Homo sapiens: one gene and its partner. The protein of the gene in region 1 interacts with the protein of each later gene in a pairwise test. Each region holds a gene or a part of one and is shown in the gene's direction. Other genes may lie near its edges. The genes, in order: RWDD2B and EPB41.

What was found.
Region 2: the proteins of RWDD2B (region 1) and EPB41 interact in binary tests that used the Homo sapiens proteins (3 or more experiments, as listed by UniProt).

The regions. Positions count from the first base shown.
Region 1 is NC_000021.9:29,008,569-29,018,282, reverse strand, and holds part of RWDD2B (RWD domain-containing protein 2B), read left to right. Parts: intron 1-35; exon of another isoform or gene 36-697; intron 698-8,590; exon of another isoform or gene 8,591-8,688; intron 8,689-9,661; coding exon 9,662-9,714.
Region 2 is NC_000001.11:28,986,810-28,996,523, forward strand, and holds part of EPB41 (protein 4.1), read left to right. Parts: intron 1-621; 5' UTR 622-628; coding exon 629-1,096; intron 1,097-2,546; exon of another isoform or gene 2,547-2,626; intron 2,627-6,520; coding exon 6,521-6,733; intron 6,734-9,714. UniProt on the Homo sapiens protein: Protein 4.1 is a major structural element of the erythrocyte membrane skeleton. It plays a key role in regulating membrane physical properties of mechanical stability and deformability by stabilizing spectrin-actin interaction. Recruits DLG1 to membranes.

The DNA.
Region 1 (9,714 bases):
CGTCTAAATAAATGGCAGATCCATACTTTCAGTACCTTAAAGCCCCGGAGTCATTCTTCCGTGTCTCATGTAATTCATCTGTAAATCCTGTTGCCTCTGTTCTCTGCATGTATCCAGAACCTGAAGCTCACCAACTTGACCACTATAATCCTATCAAAGCCACCATCATCTCTCCCTAGTTATTGCGGTGTCTATATCTGGTCACCCCACTTTTCCTTTCACTTTTCTCCATAGCAGCAAGTGTGGGGATCTTCATAAGTCAAACCTCTCTTGTAGCTCTTACATGTCAGTCGGGATAAAATTCAAAATTCTGGCCATGCTTTACTAGTCCCAACATAAACTGCCCCACATTTCCTTACTAAACTCTTCTATTCCCCGTGTCCTCAGCTCACTGTGCTCTGGCCAGCTGTTCTAGCACCCTCCTTCCTCAAGGCCTTTGAATATGCTGTTCGCTTTCCCTTGAACACTCTTGGCCAAGAAAAACACATGGCCTCCTTTTTCAGTTCCTTAAAGTCTCTTCCCTACAGTCACCTTAGGAGAAAGGCCTTTCCTGACAATGCTGTGTGCAGTCTCACCCCTGCTGCCTCATTGTTTCCCTTATCCTTGTTTTCTTTTTCAGGTTTCTTCATAGCAGTTATTCACTGGGTACAAAAATTCTTTTTTGTTTTTTTTTGAGACAGTCTTGCTCTGTTGCTCTGGCTGGAGTGCAGAGGTATGATCTTAGCTCACTGCAACCTCCGCCTCCCCAGTTCAAGCGATTCTCCTGCCTCAGCCTCCCTAGTAGCTGGGACTACAGGCGTGGGCGACCACACCTGGCTAATTTTTGTATTTTTAGTAGAGATGGGGTTTCATCATGTTGGCCAGGCTGGTCTCAAACTCCTGACCTTAGGTGATCCGCCCACCTCATCCTCCCAAAGTGCTGGGATTACAGGCGTGAGCCACCACCGCACCTGGGCTGGGCGTATAAATTTGTTTTTGATGTCATGGTATCCTCCCACCAGTAGAGTTGTTTTATTACTTTCATTCATTGTTATCTTAGTGCCAGTGCTTGAACGTAAGTGCTTGAGAAACATTTGTTGAAATGATGACCAATAATAATAATAGTAATAAGCAGCCGGACACGGTGGCTCATGCCTGTAATCCCAGCACTTTGGGAGCCCAGGGCGGGTGGATCATGACGGCAGGAGTTCGAGACCAGCCTGGCCAACGTGGTGAAACCCCGTCTCTACTAAAAAACCCAGAAAGCAGAGGTTGTAGTGAGCCGACTCTGCACTCTGGCCTGGGTGACAGAGCTAGACCCTGTCTCAAAAAAAAAGGTTTTTTTAATTAATAATAATAGTAGCAAGCACGCATATAAAATTTACTGTTGCCAGGCACTTTCCACAAATTCTCATCTAATCATCACAGCAACCCTCTCATCCCAGTTATGGAGTTGGGGAGACTAAAGCACAGATAAATTAAGCCACTTGCCTAAGGTCCTGCAGTTGGTAAGTGGCAGAGCCAGGAGTCGCACCTTGGCAATCTGGTAATAGAATCCAAAAACACTGGTAACAGAGCCACGCCAACAAAAAAACAAAGTAAACCATTTCCTCTAATAACCACCCAAGTAGTTGTTTTTTATGTTTCTCAACTCCAAAACAGACCAGCAAATATGTATATGGAATTCCAATAAGTCCAGGGATTTTAAGTATGTATGAGGATTTTGTTTAAAAAAAAAAAGGCCGGGAGCAGTGGCTCATGCCTGTAATCCCAGCACTCTGGGAGGCCAAGGCGGGTGAATCACCTGAGGTCGGGAGTTTGAGACTAGCCCAACTGACATGGTGTAACTCCATCTCTACTAAATACAAAAAATTAGCTGGGTGTGGTGGCGCATGCCTGTAATCCTAGCTACTTGGGAGGCTGAGGCAGGAGAATCGCTTGAACCTGGGAGGTGGAGATTGCAGTGAGCCGAGATTGCACCATTTCACTCCAGCCTGGGCAACAAGAGCGAAACTCCGTCTCAAAAAAATAAATAAATAAAAAATCGGAAAAAAAACAAAAGAAAACATTGCGATTAAAGGAGGGAGGAATATTTGCAGTTCCAACAGTTATTAGAAGAGGAAAACTTCAAATTAAACATGAATAGACATATTAATAAATATATGTTAATATATGTATAAATATTATCAAGGCTACCCACCATCTTTTATGATACTTTAAATGCTTATATTTAAACTACTTAAATTCAGGTAACTACATGGCAAAATAAGGAATCCTGCTCTGTTCTGTGGAGAGGAGGGCTAATGTCATTTGGCCTGGAAAAACATGTTCTGGAGTCAGACAGAATACTGAACACCCCTCTTGGAAATTCACAGTTTAAGACTCTGAGAAGTCACAAATAAGAATTGTGCCCATATAGTCTCTCGCCTAATTAGGATTGCTTTTGTCTAGGATAAATACCTAAACCATATGGGGCTGGGCATGGTGGCTCACGCCTGTAATCCCAGCACTTTGGAAGGCCAGGGTAGGTAGATCACCTGAGGTCAGGAGTTTGAGACCAGCCTGGCCAACATGATAAAACCCTTTCTCTACTAAAAATACAAAAAATTAGCTGGGCGTGGTGGCGAACACCTGTAATCCCAGCTATTCGGGAGGCTGAGGCAAGAGAATCACTTGAACCCAGGAGGCGGAGGTTGTGGTGAGCCAAGATTGTGCCATTGCACTCCAGCCTGGGCAACAAGAGCAAAACTCCATCTCAAAAAAAAAAAAAAAAAAGACTAGGTGTGGCGGCTCACACCTGTAATCACAGCACTTTGGGAGGCCAACGCGGGTGGATCACAAGGTCAGGATTTCGAGACCAGCCTGCCCAACATGGTGAAACCCCATCTCTACTAAAAATACAAAAATTAGCTGGGCGTAGTGGTGTGCGCCTGTAATCCCAGCTACGCAGGAGGCTGAGGCAGGAGAATTGCTTGAACCTGGGAGGTGGAGGTTGCAATAAGCCAAGATTGCACCATTGTACTCCAGCCTGGGTGACAAAGTGAGACTCCCATCTCAAAAAAAAAAAAAAAAAAAAAAACGCATCATAATCAAACTTCTGAAAACCAAAGACAATGAAAAATTCTTAAAATTAGTGACAAAAATGAACCTTATCTGTAAAGGAAAACAATTCAAATGAGAGTGATTTCTCATCAGTCACCAGAGAGGCTAGGTGAAGAGGCACAGCATTTTTCAATTGTTGAAAGTAAAAACCTGTTAAGCCAGAATACTGCATCCAGTGAAAATATTCTGCAGAAATGAAGGGGAAATCAAGACATTCTAAGATGAAGGAAATCTAGGAGATTTGTCACCAGCAGACCTATCCTAAAAGAATGGTTAAAATAGGTTCTCTAAACAGAAAAGAAATAATAAAAGAATTATTATTAAAGAAATATAATTTAGACCTATTTTATTTTACTTTATTTATTTTTATTTTTTTATTTTTAGAAGGAGTCTCGCTCTGCCGCCCAGGCTGGAGTGCAGTGGCTGTATCTCGGCTCACTGAAAGCTCTGCCTCCTGGGTTCACGCCATTCTCCTGCCTCAGCCTCCTGAGTAGCTGGGACTACAGGTGCCCGCCACCACGCCCGGCTAATTTTTTGTATTTTTAGTAGAGATGGGGTTTCACCATGTTAGCCAGGATGGTCTTGATCTCCTGACCTCATGATCTGCCTGCCTTGGCCTCCCAAAGTGCTGGGATTACAGGCGTGAGCCACTGCGCCAGGCCATTTAGACCTATTTTAGGACTGTTAAGACTGAGATGGTCTCTGCTGTGGTTTAATGTGTGCCCCAAAGTTCATGTGTTAGAAGCTTTATCCCAAAGCAATAGAGTTGAGTGGTGGGACCTTTCAGAGGTGATTAAGTGATATGCAGGGATATAACAAAAAATGTAACATTCCTGTCATCAGCATTTCAGAAGAAGAGAAAGAAGGCAGGGTTGAAAAAGTTCCCAAAGAACAGGGCCCTCACAAATGGATTAATGGTGTTACTGCAGGAGTGGGTTAGTTATTGTGGGAGTGGGTTCCTGATAAAAGCATGCATTTGGCCCCTTCATCTCTCTTGCACTTGCTCTCATTCTCTCTTGCCCTCTGCCTTCCGCCATGGGATGACTCAGTAAGAATGCCCTTGCAAAATGCAGGCACCATTCTCTTGGATTTCCCTGCTTCCAGAACAATAAGCCAAATAAATTTCTCTTCATCGTAAACTACCCAGTCTCAGGTAGTCTGTTATCGTAACAGAAAATGAACTAATATAACATCCAATAGAAATATACAGATATAGTTAAATTTACAAATATGGGGCTCGAGAATTTGGAACATCCTAAGAATTTGAGAATTGTGAACATTTAATATTCAGTAATACTTGGTACCATGAGACAATAGAGAAGATAAAGATGTCCTCAACCAAACCTTAAGGGATGCTAACATTTTAAAGATCTTGCTTGGCAGTAGTATGGTATGGCATATAAATTATACCTCATTAAAGCTATTAAAAAAACTACTGAAGGGAAAATTCTACGTTATAAACATATCGTCTTTTTCTGTATTAATCTTTAATTTCTTTTTTTTTTTTTTTTTTGAGACGGAGTCTCACTCTGTCGCCCAGGCTGGAGTGCAGTGGCGCGATCTCGGCTCACTGCAAGCTCCGCCTCCCGAGTTCACGCCATTCTCCTGCCTCAGCCTCCCGAGTAGCTGGGACTACAGGCGCCGGCCACCACGCCCGGCTAATTTTTTGTGTTTTTAGTAGAGGTGGGGTTTCACTGTGTTAGCCAGGATGGTCTGGATCTCCTGACCTCATGATCCGCCCGCCTCTGCCTCCCAAAGTGTTGGGATTACAGGCGTGAGCTACCGCGCCAGGCCTAATCTTTAATTTCAATGCAATTACCATTTTTTCTTGTTTTCAAAACTTAACAAAATTATTCTAATGTTTATATGTGAGAAAAGCCAGGAAATACCAAAAAAGAATTCTAGAAAAGAAGAGTGATGGCTATGAAGAGACAGAGTAGGAGCAATTTACTAACCCATCATAGTGATTTCAAGAGTTGAGTATTAGTTAGCTGGGTATGGTGGTAGCATGACTGTAGTCCCAGATACTTGGGAGGCTGAGACAGGAGGATTGCTTGAGCCTAGGAGTTCGAGGCTGCAACGAGCTATAATCGCACCACTGCACTCCAGCCTGGGTGACAGAGTGAGACTCTGTCTCAAAAAAAAAAAAAAAAAGAGTATTAGGACATGATATTATAGACAGATCAATATAACAAAATGGAGAATCCAGAAAAAGACTCAAATACATATAGGCACTTAACATATGTTGAAAGAAACATTTCAAATTTATTATAAGATGTACTGGTAAAAATGGCTAGTTAACTGGAAAAAAAAAATAAGCTGGAAACTTCCGTCACCTTTTAAAGTGAAGTATATCCCAGATGGATCAAATATTTAAATGCAGAAATTGAAAATGTATTCCAAATAGAAAATAGAAGACTTTTTTTTTTTTAATTGATCATTCTTGGGTGTTTCTCGCAGAGGGGGATTGGGCATGGTCACAGGACAATAGTGGAGGGAAGGTCAGCAGATAAACAAGTGAACAAAGGTCTCTGGTTTTCCTAGGCAGAGGACCCTGCGGCCTTCCGCAGTGTTTGTGTCCCTGGGTACTTGAGATTAGGGAGTGGTGATGACTCTTAAGGAGCATGCTGCCTTCAAGCATCTGTTTAACAAAGCACATCTTGCACCGCCCTTAATCCATTCAACCCTGAGTGGATACAGCACATGTTTCAGAGAGCACAGGGTTGGGGGTAAGGTCACAGATCTACAGGATCCCAAGGCAGAAGAATTTTTCTTAGTACAGAACAAAATGAAAAGTCTCCCATGTCTACCTCTTTCTACACAGACACAGCAACCATCCGATTTCTCAATCTTTTCCCCACCTTTCCCCCCTTTCTATTCCACAAAACCGCCATTGTCATCATGGCCCGTTCTCAGTGAGCTGTTGGGTACACCACCCAGACCGGGTGGTGGCCGGGCAGAGGGGCTCCTCACTTCCCAGTAGGGGCGGCCGGGCAGAGGCGCCCCTCACCTCCCGGGGGGGGGCTGACCACCCCCACCTCCCTCCCGGACGGGGCGGCTGGCCGGGCGGGGGGCTGACCCCCCAACCTCCCTCCCGGACGGGGCGGCTGGCCGGGCAGAGGGGCTCCTCACTTCCCAGTAGGGGCGGCCGGGCAGAGGCGCCCCTCACCTCCCGGACAGGGCGGCTGGCCGGGCGGGGGGCTGACCCCCCCACCTCCCTCCCGGACGGCGCGGCTGGCCGGGTCGGGGGCTGACCCCCCCACCTCCCTCCCGGATGGGGCGGCTGGCCAGGCGGGGGGCTGACCCCCCAACCTCCCTCCCGGACGGGGCGGCTGGCCGGGCAGAGGGGCTCCTCACTTCCCAGTAGGGGCGGCCGGGCAGAGGCGCCCCTCACCTCCCAGACGGGGCGGCTGGCCGGGCGGGGGGCTGACCCCCCCACCTCCCTCCCGGACGGGGCGGCTGGCCGGGCAGAGGGGCTCCTCACTTCCCAGTAGGGGCGGCCGGGCAGAGGCGCCCCTCACCTCCCGGACGGGGCGGCTGGCCGGGCGGGGGGCTGACCCCCCCACCTCCCTCCCGGACGGGGCGGCTGGCCGGGTGGGGGGCTGACCCCCCCCACCTCCCTCCCGGAAGGGGCGGCTGGCCGGGCGGGGGGCTGACCCCCCCCCACCTCCCTTCCGGACGAGGTGGCTGCCGGGTAGAGACGCTCCTCACTTCCCAGACGGGGTGGCTGCTGGGCGGAGGGGCTCCTCACTTCTCAGACCCAGCGGCTGCCGGGCGGAGGGGCTCCTCACTTCTCAGACGGGGTGGTTGCCAGGCAGAGGGTCTCCTCACTTCTCAGACCGGGTGGCCGGGCAGAGACGCTCCTCGCATCCCGGACGGGGCGGCAGGGCAGAGGTGCTCCCCACATCTCAGACGATGGGCGGCCGGGCAGAGACGCTCCTCACTTCCCACATGGGATGGCGGCTGGGAAGAGGCGCTCCTCACTTCCTAGATGGCAGGGCGGCTGGGCAGAGACGCTCCTCACTTTCCAGACTAGGCAGCCAGGCAGAGGGGCTCCTCACATCCCAGACGATGGGTGGCCGGGCAGAGACGCTCCTCACTTCCCAGACGGGGTGGCGGCCGGGCAGAGGCTGCAATCTCGGCACTTTGGGAGGCCAAGGCAGGCTGCTGGGAGGTGGAGGTTGTAGCGAGCCGAGATCACGCCACTGCACTCCAGCCTGGGCACCATTGAGCACTGAGTGAACCAGACTCCGTCTGCAATCCCCGCATCTCGGGAGGCCGAGGCTGGCGGATCACTCGCGGTTAGGAGCTGGAGACCAGCCCGGCCAACACAGCGAAACCCCGTCTCCACCAAAAAAATACGAAAACCAGTCAGGGGTGGCGGCGCGCGCCTGCAATCGCAGGCACTCGGCAGGCTGAGGCAGGAGAATCAGGCAGGGAGGTTGCAGTGAGCCGAGATGGCAGCAGTACCGTCCAGCTTCGGCTCGGAATCAGAGGGAGACCGTGGAAAGAGAGGGAGAGGGAGACCATGGGGAGACGGGAGAGGGAGAGGGAGAGGGTTTTTTTTGGTTTTTTTTTTTTATTTTTATTTTTTGAGACGGAGTTTCACTCTTTTTGCCCAGGCTGGAGTGCAATGGCACGATCTCAACTCACTGCAACCTCTGACTCCCAGGTTCCAGTGATTCTGTCTCAGCCTCCCAAGTAGCTGGGACTTCAGGCACGCACCAACACACCCGGGTAATTTTGTTGTATTTTTTAGTAGAGACAGGGTTTCGTTATGTTACCCAGGCTGATCTAAAACTCCTGGACTCAAGCTATCCACCCTCCTTGGCCTCCCCAAGTGGTGGGATTACAGGTGTGAGCCACCGTGCTAGGCCAAAAGGAACTATGTATTAAGAATTTTCTTTTAAAGAAAAGAAGCAGGGGACTGAGTACAATTGTAAATTTCTGTTCTGTATGGCAACTTTCTGGAAAGTAACTTGGCAATATCTATCAAAATTTAAAATGTACATGTTGATACAACAATCCACCTCTGTAAGTTTATTATTGAATACACAGTATTCAGTTTACCATACTATATATATAAAAAGACCTTGCATTATAGGATTGTTCATATTAGTAAAAATGTGGAAACAACCCAAGTGTCCATCAATAGGTAAAGAATTAAATAAGTTATGGCATATCTACATGATTCAGTATAACAGCCGACAGTTACAAAGAATGAGGTAGATCACTATATGTTGACAGTGAATAGATCTACAAAATATATTTGGTGGGGAGGGAGATAGGAAATAGGAGGAAAAAGTATATATTATCCCCTTTGGATTTAAATATGTATACTGTATATATCTCACATTGTACATATTTATACATTATACCAGCATTTTTCACATATATATATGTATAATGCTTAAGATGTTTTAATGTTAACAGGGGTGACTTAAGCTACAGGACAATTAACACTTATTTTCTCTTTATGTTCCTCTGCTTCTTAAAAACTAATAAATAGGCCGGGCGCAGTGGCTCACACCTGTAATCCCAGCACTTTGGGAGGCCGAGGCGGGCGGATCATGAGGTCAGGAGATCAAGACCATCCTGGCTAACACGGTGAAACCCCATCTCTACTAAAAATACAAAAAATTAACCGGGTGTGGTGTTGGGCGCCTGTAGTCCCAGCTATTTGGGAGGCTGAGGCAGGAGAATGGCGTGAACGCGCCGAGGTGGAGCTTGCAGTGAACCAAGATTGCGCCACTGCACTACAGCCTGGGTGACAGAGCGAGACTCCGTTTCAAAAAAAAAAAAAAAAAAACTAATAAATGCCATGCACAGTGGCTCATACCTGTAATGCTAGCACTTTGGGAGGCCAAGGCAGGAGGATTGCTTGAGCCCAGGAGGTCAAGACCAGTCTGGACAACATAGCAAGACCTTGTTTCTACAAATAAAAAATGAAGCCGGGCGTGGCAGTGCATACCTGTGGTCCTAGCTACTCAGAAGTCTGAGGTGGGAGGATTGCTTGGGCGTGGGAGGTTGAGGTTGCAGTGAGCGGGGATCATGCCACTGCACTCCAGCTGTGGTGACAGAGCTAGACCCTGTCTCAAAAAAACCTAATAAACATTAATATTTACTTAAAAAGAAGAAATTGACCATCCACGTAACCAAACTCTCTGACTGACTTTGTTCATTCTAGGTTTCCAGTGTAACCAGTCATATCCTCTCTTCTGGCTACATTATTGATACAGCTTTTTGACTACATAATTGGTTTACTTTGATGAAATTGCCCATTATGGTAGCTCAAGTTGTCCACTCAACTATCTAGACACAGAAGAATGTGGTGTCTACTTACTATTAAGAGTTTTTTTGTGTTTGTTTTTTTATAGATGGTCTCAGTATGTTGCTCAGGCTGGTCTTAGCATAGGACTTAGCATATTATATCTGAAAGTAGAGTAATAGGGAAAGAGACTAATTAAATTGTACAATTTATGAAGAAACCAAGTACAATTTTAGTAAGTACACATGTTGATGTATTCATTTCTTCCAAGATTGCATATGTAAATTGTCTCTCTTATCTTTACCTCCTTAGAAACTTACACATGTCCAAAAATGATTGAGATGGAGCAGGCGGAGGCCCAGCTT
Region 2 (9,714 bases), on another chromosome or scaffold:
TTTGGAATTGTAACATGAAAACCTAAGGAAATTTTTTGCAGTATTTCAACTGTATATTTGTCGTTGCTGTTATCCAGTCTTACAACAAACTATCAGAATTTTACTTTTGCAATTTTAATAGAGAAGTCTCTGCATCCTAAGAAATGTAAAGAAAAAGAACAATAAAGACTGGGGGAACTTTTAAATTTCATCGTCTCTTGGTGTGTGGAGAATTTTGCAGGGAATAATTCCTGCAAATCCTACACCTTCAGATTGATACCCTCAAAGGACACTAAACCACAGTCCTTTTTTAAGGAAGGATAAAACTGTATTTACTGTATACAGTTCTAGGCATTGGATTTAATATGTGATGTATTTCACTAAGGTGGCCTCCGTGGGTACTATTTTAAGCTACTCTCTCTGTGTGCATATCTTTAGTGACTCAAGGCATTAATATTTTATTCAGGATGTGTAGATAAGATATTTTTGTAATTTAATGGAAAGTCTCATGTTTAATGGGTTTGAATTCTGTTTGTTGGCAATTAAATACCTAAGTATATTAATTTTTTAGGGTTTAGGGTTTTGCCAACAGTAATGTGTTTTGCTTATAAGAGCCCCCCTTTTCTATCTTCTTTTTAATAGCAACATCATGACAACAGAGAAGAGTTTAGTGACTGAGGCCGAAAATTCACAGCACCAACAGAAGGAAGAGGGTGAGGAAGCCATAAACTCAGGCCAACAAGAACCTCAGCAGGAGGAATCTTGTCAAACAGCAGCTGAAGGAGATAATTGGTGTGAACAGAAGCTGAAAGCTTCTAATGGAGACACTCCTACACATGAAGACTTGACCAAGAACAAGGAGCGGACATCAGAAAGCAGAGGACTTTCACGACTATTCTCCTCGTTTCTCAAAAGGCCCAAATCTCAGGTGTCCGAGGAAGAAGGCAAAGAAGTAGAGTCAGATAAAGAAAAAGGTGAAGGAGGTCAGAAAGAGATAGAATTTGGAACCAGTCTTGATGAAGAGATCATTTTAAAGGCCCCAATTGCAGCTCCTGAACCGGAACTCAAAACAGACCCATCTTTGGATCTTCATTCATTAAGCAGTGCAGAAACACAGGTAAGGATGTGTGGATATGGGAGGTGGGCAAAGGAAGGCAGGTTATACACTTTATTTTTCATTTAAGAGTATTTGGGCTGGGCGCGGTGGCTCATGCCTGTAATTCCACCACTTTGGGAGGCCGAGGCAGGCGGATCAACTGAGGTCAGGAGTTCGAGACCAGCCTGGCCAACATGGCCAAACCCTGTCTCTACTAAAAGTACAAAAATTAGCCGGGCCTGATGGCGGGTGCCTGTAATCCCAGCTACTCAGGAGGCTGAGACAGGAGAAGTTGAACTCGGGAGGCGGAGGCTGCAGTGAGCTGAGATCGTGCCACTGCATTCCAGCCTAGGCAACAAGGATGAGATTCCGTCTCAACAACGGGGGGATAAAAAAAGTACTTGGTTTTATTTCTTACTAGCTAGTTGACTTAGGCATTGATAGTGATAAGTAGCATCATAAAGCTTTATAGTTTCTACTCTATTTTTTTTTTGAGACTGAGTCTTGCTCTGTCACCCAGGCTGGAGTGCAGTGGTGTGATCTCGGCCCACTGCAACCTCCCCGTCCTGGGTTCAAGCTATTCTTCTGCCTCAGCCTCCCGAGTAGCTGGGATTACAGGCGCTGGCCACCATGCCCAGCTAATTTTTGTATTTTTAGTAGAGACAGCGTTTTGCTGTGTTGGCCAGGCTGGTCACAAACTCTTGACCTCAGGTAATCTGTCCACCTCAGCCTCCCAAAGTGCTGGGACTACAGACGTGAGCCACCATGCCCGGCTTATAGTTTCTACTCTAAAAAAATTAATGTAGTCATTGGAAACTTACTTTTTAAACAGTTACTTACACTTTATATGTATTAAAGGGTCTTGCTATTTTGCCCAGGCTAATCTCAAACTCCTGGGCTCAAGTGATCCTCCCACCTCAGCCTCCTGAGCAGCTGGCATTACAGGTGTGTACCACCATGCCTGTCCATTTACTGTTTATAAATCAAAGAATAGTAGAGAAAAAAAAAGTATCAAATCAATGTGTTCAGCCCATATATCATTTTATTATAATAATGGAACAAATTGAAGATTTCTCATGAGAGAGGAAAAGAAAGATGAGATGGTTTAGAGTTCATTTTTGTGGAATTATTAGGAACAGGACGGTTATCAGCAGATGTGGTTCTTTTACGTAAATCTTCCTAAAAGCTGTGTGATGAATTCAAGCCCTTTGAAGGTATGTGATAGATTCAAGTCATGTCTACCTTATTTTGATCATCTTCTTTAACTAGAGCATATTGCCACAGAGTGTAAGATACAGATGAGGAAGTCTAGCTCTTTCTATCACCTGTGTAATGTATATTAGTCTGGGGCCTTAATTGTGACATAGTGTTGTTAAACTAAACACGAGTTGTGAGTTTATTTGTCCCAAAAAATGGGAAAACATTAGTACTGTAACTCAGACTATTTTCTGAGAATGTCATTTATTTTCAGCCTCACCATTACAATTAAGAATTATTTTCAGAGTCTTCTTATTTCTGAAGCATGTGAATATTATCTGCATCGTTAAAAGTGTAAGTCCTTCTAGAACTCTGACAGTGTTGGGGGGAAAAAAGTAAAAGTCCTACATGTTTCTATTATAGGTCTGAGATTTGGACTCCATAGTTTTATTAGAGTCTTATTAGAATATTACATGTATTTCTAGAACTATTACTTGTATATTCAAAGTGCTGAGGGTAAAATTTAGGATAAAATTATAATTGCACACTTGCTGTTAGTGAAACAAGGTTGAAAACAAGATTTACTATGTTCTGTAATAGTTAAGATGCAAGCTATAGAATCCGACTAGAGGGTTCAAATCGAAGAAAAGTGACACTTTTCACTTTATCAGTTTCCTCCTCTGTACAATGGGGATAATAATATCCACCTCATTTGGGATTGAAAGGATTAAAAGAGTGAAACCGGTAAAAGCTCTTAAAACATTGCCTGGCATTTAATAAATACTCAATGAATGTTAGCTAGTAAATAAACACAAACAGTAAAGGCAAAGAAACCATTCATATCTTAATAACATTTTATTTTAGGAATACCAAAAGAATTAAATTACATTATCGGCCGGGCGCAGTGGCTCACACCTGTAATCCTAGCACTCTAGGAGGCTGAGGCAGGCGAATCACAAGGTCAGGAGTTTGAGACCATCCTGGCCAACATGGTGAAACCCTGTCTCTACAAAAAATACAAAAAATTAGCTGGGCGTGGTGGCGGGCACCTGTAGTCCCAGCTACTCGGAAGGCGAGGCAGGAAAATTTGCTGAGAGCCGAGATCACGCCACTGCACTCCAGCCTGGGTGACAGTGCGAGATTCCATCTCAAAAAAAAAAAAAAAAAATTACATTATCTTTCAGGAAGCCTGGTACTTTCAAGAGTTTTTCAAATTTCCTTCCTTCCTTCCTTCCTTCCTTCCTTCCTTCCTTCCCTCCCTCCCTCCCTCCCTCCCTTCCTCTCTTCCTCTGCCTCCCTCCTTTCCCCTCCCTCCCTCCTTCCCCCTCTTTATTTATTTTCTTTTTTTCTTTCTTTCTTGACAGGGTCTCTCTCTGTCACCCAGACTAGAATACAGTGGTGTGATCATGGCTCACTACAGCCTCAACCTCCCGGGCTCAAGCTATCCTCCCATCTCAGTCTCCTGAGTAGTTGGGACTACAGGTGCATGCCACATGCCCAGCTAATTTTTAAATTTTTTGGTAGAGACGGTCTTGCTTTGTTGCCTAGGCTGGTCTTGAACTCCTGAACTCGAGCAATCCTTCTGCCTCAGCCTTCCAGAATGCTGGGATTACAGGCATGACCACTGTGCCTGGCCTCAAGGGGTTTTTAACTGCTTTTTTCTCCTTCAGCTTTATATAGGGGAAAATCCATATCTTGTTTTAGTTAACATTTGAATCAGAACTTGTCTGCATTGTCTAAAGTTCATAGATTCGTACTCAAGTTGACACAGATGATGGACAGTTAATTTTAGATTTAACTAAAATCTCATTCATTAAGATTTAATTCCGAATTGAAATAAATTGTCCGTAGGTTATTTGTCTTCATGTGGAGAAAAAGAAACGATATTGTTAGTAAAATTTCAAGGAGATATTATTTAAAAGAACAAACTATTTTAGGCCTTTTGGAAACTAATATTTATAGTCAAAACCTTGTGGATCAGAGTCGTCTGGATAAAGGTTTATTTGCCTAACCATGTTTCTGTATATGTAATAGGATTTTATTTAAATGGTTCTTTTTTATCCAGAATTTTTTAAAAAGCGTGTTTGCTTTATATTATAAATATATAAATATATATTTATATTACATTTAAGTGTATAATATATATAAATATAGGATTGTACCAGTCTTCATCCAGAGTAGCTTGGATTTTTTGGAAGCCTATGTAAATTTTTAATGTTTGTTTATTCATTCAACAAATATTTATTGAAAACCTACCATGTGTGCCAGGCCCTAGGCTGGATATACCTTGGTAAATAAAAACTGCAATATGGTGAAGAGGTTTAAAATCATGGATTTTGGGGCTGAGTGTGGTGGCTCATGCCTGTAAATCCAGCACTCTGGGAGACTGAGGCAGGAGGATCACTAGAGCCCCGGAGTTCGAGACCAACCTGGGCAACATGGAGAAACACCATCTCTACAAAAAAGTAAAAAACTAGCTAGGCATGGTGGCTCTCCTGTAGTCCCAGCTACTTGGGATGTTGAGGTGGGAGGATCACTTGAGTCTGAGAGGTCGAGGCTGCATTGAGCCATGATTATGTCACTGCACTCCAGCCTGGGTGATAGAGTGAGACTCTTGTCTCAAAAAAAAAAAAAAAAAGCAAAAAAAACAAATCGTGGATTCTGAAGCCAGACTGGTATGTGACTTATTAATTGTATGATCCTAGGCAAGTTACTTAATTTCTCTGGCCTGTTTTACAACCCTGCAGGCCAGGTACTATTATCCTCCCTCTATCAAGTGGGGATATAATAATACTACGTGCCTCGCAGGGTAGTTATGAGGATTGAGTTAGTTCACATAAGTAATTTTCTTAGAATAGTGACTGGCCCATTGTAATTGTTGTATAAATGTTTGGTATTATTATTATTATAAAACAGACATGATTTCTACCCTTGTGGACTTTAATAGAGAAGACAAAAAAGTAGCAAATAAAAATAATTATTTATTGTAATAAGTTATAAAGCCACCAGAGTACTGATATGAAAGACAGTAGAGCGGGCATAGATAGATAGGATAGCCAGTGAAGAGACTTCCTGAGGTTGCAGTGAGAGGGTCATGAAAGATCGGAAGGAGTCTTTTAGATTACTTCCAGTATTTAATGCAGGAGTCAAATAATTAATTTCTTTTTCCTAATTGTCAACCATGCATTCTTTTTTTCTTTTAATTGTTTTCCAGCTGTTACACAAGGAAGTAACATATTCTTTTAAAAGAAAATAATTAGTCGGGTTTAGATAAAAATATGTCGGTAGTTTTGTTGTGTTGAAAGTAAAAGTAAAAATGTATGCCGGCCAGGCACGGTTGCTCACGCCTGTAATCCCAACACTTTGGGAGGCCGAGGCGGGCAGATCATGAGGTCAGGAGATCAAAACCATCCTGGCTAACGTGGTGAAACCCCATCTCTACTAAAAGTACAAAAAAATTAGCTGGGCGTGGTGGCGGGCGCCTGTAGTCCCAGCTATTCAGGAGGCCCAGGCAGGAGAATCGCTTGAACCCTGGAGGCGGAGCTTGGAGTAAGCCGAGATCGCGCCACTGCACTCCAGCCTGGGCTACAGAGTGAGACTCCGTCTCAAAAAAAAATGTATACCAAAAATGTTATCCTACTTATCGGTATTATTTGGGGATAATTTAAGATTGCACCAGGAAACTCTTCCTTCATTGACTCTTCTTTGCATTTAACATGATTAATATTGGGTAGAAAGGTGTTAGCTGGTAGTTAAAATTTTTAGCCTACTACATGTTTGCTTAATGATGTGAAATTGGTCCCAAGCATTTCTCTTAGAATTAAAATTAATTTAAAATTTAGAATATGTAACAAGTCACATCTTATTTTGCAGTTTGTAAGGCTACATTGCTAAAATTGAGGAGCATGGGCAGAGACAATAACGTTTTTGTTAAACTTTAATAATACCGTGTAATGGCTTGGTCAGGAAGAATATATAATGCTGAGAGCAATGGATTGGTATCCTCCGGTTTACCTGAGACCTTCATTTATTGATTTGATGGGATTCTACCTGAGAAGTTTTAATAACAAAGTCTTTAGGGCATTTGGGGGATCATACTATTTTTTATAGAAAAATATTTAATATTAATGTCACCTATATTTGTTTTAGTTCATGCTTTTATTGGTAAGATTATTATAGGTAAAAGCATATACAGCATGTTTTGTGAAATGTGTTTATTACTGACTTGGCGATGTCATGGATATGTAGCCTGCTCAGGAAGAACTCAGAGAAGATCCAGATTTTGAAATTAAGGAAGGAGAAGGACTTGAAGAGTGCTCCAAAATAGAAGTAAAAGAAGAAAGCCCTCAATCAAAAGCAGAAACAGAATTAAAAGCTTCCCAAAAACCAATCAGAAAACACAGGAACATGCACTGCAAGGTTTCTTTGTTGGATGACACAGTTTATGAATGTGTTGTGGAGGTGAGTATGTTTTCATTTCCAACAATCAGAACTCTTACAGGTGGTTTCATCTAGAGTTGCGTAAGTGGTGATTTTGCCCACGATAAGACTCACTGTAGTGATTATTTCTTTTTTCTTTTTTTTTTTTTTTTTGAGACAGAGTTTTGCTCTGTCACCCAGGCTGGAGTGCAGTGGCATGATCTTGGCTCACTGTAGCCCCCAACTCCCATGTTCAAGTGATTCTCCTGTCTCAGCCTCCCGAGTAGCTGGGATTACAGCCATGTGCCACCATGCCAGGCTAATTTTTTGTATTTTTAGTAGAGACAGATTTCACCATATTGGTCAGGCTGGTCTTGAAGTCCGGGCCTCAAGTGATCTGCCCACCTCGGCCTCCCAAATTGCTGGGATTACAGGCATGAGCCACTGCGCCCGGCCTTTAATGATTATTTCTGTAGATGGAAGTATTAATGGTGATTTTCTGGAGGTGGGATTATGGGAAGATGATGAGTAAGTCTTTAAGTCCAGTAAATGCCATTTCTTAAAATTTTCTGTTTTCTGAAAGAATAAGTGATTGAATCAGGATTGAAGAAAAATATCAGAGTTATTCAGTTACTCTTTTTGCTCCTTCAGGACAAGTTGACAATTTTTTTTTTGTTTGTTTGTTTTTTGAGACAGAGTCTCTCTCTGTCGTCCAGGCTGGAGTGCAGTGGTACAATCTCGGCTCACTGCAAGCTCTGCCTCCTGGGTTCACGCCATTCTCCTGCCTCAGCCTCCAGAGTAGCTGGGACTACAGGCACCCGCCACCACGCCTGGCTAGTTTTTTGTGTTTTAAGTAGAGACGGGGTTTCACCGTGTTAGCCAGGCTGGTCTCGATCTCCTGACCTCGTGATCTGCCCGCCTCGGCCTCCCAAAGTGCTGGGTTTACAGGCTTGAGCCACCGCGCCCGGCCAGAGCAAGTTGAAATTTTAAAAAAATCTACTAACTATATATTTTTCAAACTGGAACAGTAGTTGTTTATTATGATATGCTTGATATATAAGCAATTGCAATTGTTACTAGTAACAGCTTTTATTGACAAAGTGTGTAATTCACATATATGTGGAACAAACTATTTTATTTATTTATTTATTTATTTATTTATTTATTTATTTATTTGAGACAGGGTCTTGCTCTGTTGCCCAGGTTGAAGTGCAGTGGCGCAGTGACAGCTCACTGCAGCCTCAACCTCCTGGGCTCAGGTGATCCTCCCACCTCAGCCTCCTGAGTAGCTGGGACTACAGGCACATACCATCACACCTGGCTAATTTTTTATATTTTTTGTAGAGACAGGTTCTCACCATGTTGCCCAGGTTACTCTTGAGCTCCCCGGCTCAAGCGATCTGCCTGCCTCAGCCTCCCAAAGTACTAAGATTATAGGCATGAGTCACCGCACCCAGCCTTATTTCTTAATCACATTATTTATTTGCAAATGTAAATATGTTCAATCACAAATCATCTAAAATATTATGCTATATTTACTAATAGGTATTCTCTAAGTTTAAAAAGGAAATCAAGAAAGATGTAATTGTACTTTGAAACAGGTACTATACACCTAACTAGAGCCTTAGGGTCTGCTTTTTCTGCTTCTTGCACTAACTAATTTAGAGATGGGGAAAGCTATTTTACACCTATTCTTCCCATTCAGACCAAGATCCAGATATGGATCTCTTATATATGAAGCCCTTGGGGACAGATGTGTCATAGAATTCAGAATATTTTGAGGCCGGGCACGGTGGCTCATGCCTGTAATCCCAGCACTTTGGGAGGCCGAGGCAGGTGGATCACGAGGTCAAGAAATCGAGACCATACTGACCAACATGGTGAAACCCCGTCTCTACTAAAAATACAAAAATTAGCTGGGTGTGGTGGCACGCACCTGTAGTCCCAGCTGCTTGGGAGGCTGAGGCAGGAGAATCGCTTGAACCCAGGAGGTAGAGGTTGCAGTGAGCTGAGATCACACCACTGCACTCCAGCCTGGCGACAGAGTGAGACTCCGTCTCAAAACAAAACAAAATAAAAACTAGAATTCAGAATATTTTGGAGTTTAGCAAGGGAATAAGTACATATTCTGCATATTTTATAATAAACCCAGCAGTGTCTGTAGCAGCACCCACATGATCAGACATAGTATTTCTATGGTAAAAGATATGAAGATTCATTCTGAGGTGGATAAATTAAGATTATAAATAGTCTCTTTACAGTTCAAGTCAAAATTTGCCATTTGGATTTTAGAATTATGAATAAGGGATTAGGGAAAATACATGAAGCATTTTCAAATCATCTTCTGTCATTTAGAATGAAAACATGGGAGAAAAAAAGAAAATTATTTGATATGGATGAGTTAAGACTGACAATGAATGAACATTTATGTGAATTATTAATAGTCATTAAAAATAACTCATCTCATTGAGAGGAGGACATGTCATATATGTTTGCCCAAAAAATGATTCTAATTTTTTGAAGTATTTTCATATATATTTCTCAGAAGACATTCACATATTTGATTATTGTTAAACAATTCCAATAAAGAGGTAGGATGAGTGTAAATATTCTTATCATTTCACAGCTGAGCAAACTAATGTTCAGAAAAGTTAATTGAATCTACTCAGCTTGTTTAGCTAGTAAATGGAGGAGCCAGGACTTTCTGACTAAATCTCAGTCTTTAAGTTAGGGTATTTTCTTCCTATAAATAGGAGTAAAAGAACCCAAATTTGGGAATGGTTTGACTTTCTAGGTTAAGAAACATTAAGAAAATTATTCCTAGCACCACTGAAGGAGCCACTTCAACAGGTAGTGTCTGTTGGCTATCTAGAATTTTACTTTATTCATTTTTCTGAAAGAGATTGTAGGGAGTTGAGGCATACCTCATTTTCTTTGGGACATTTGGTCTGAAAATGATAGAGTCTAATGATTTCCACAGCCACAATTAAATGTCACTCTGGACAGTTGATTCAGTAATTTAA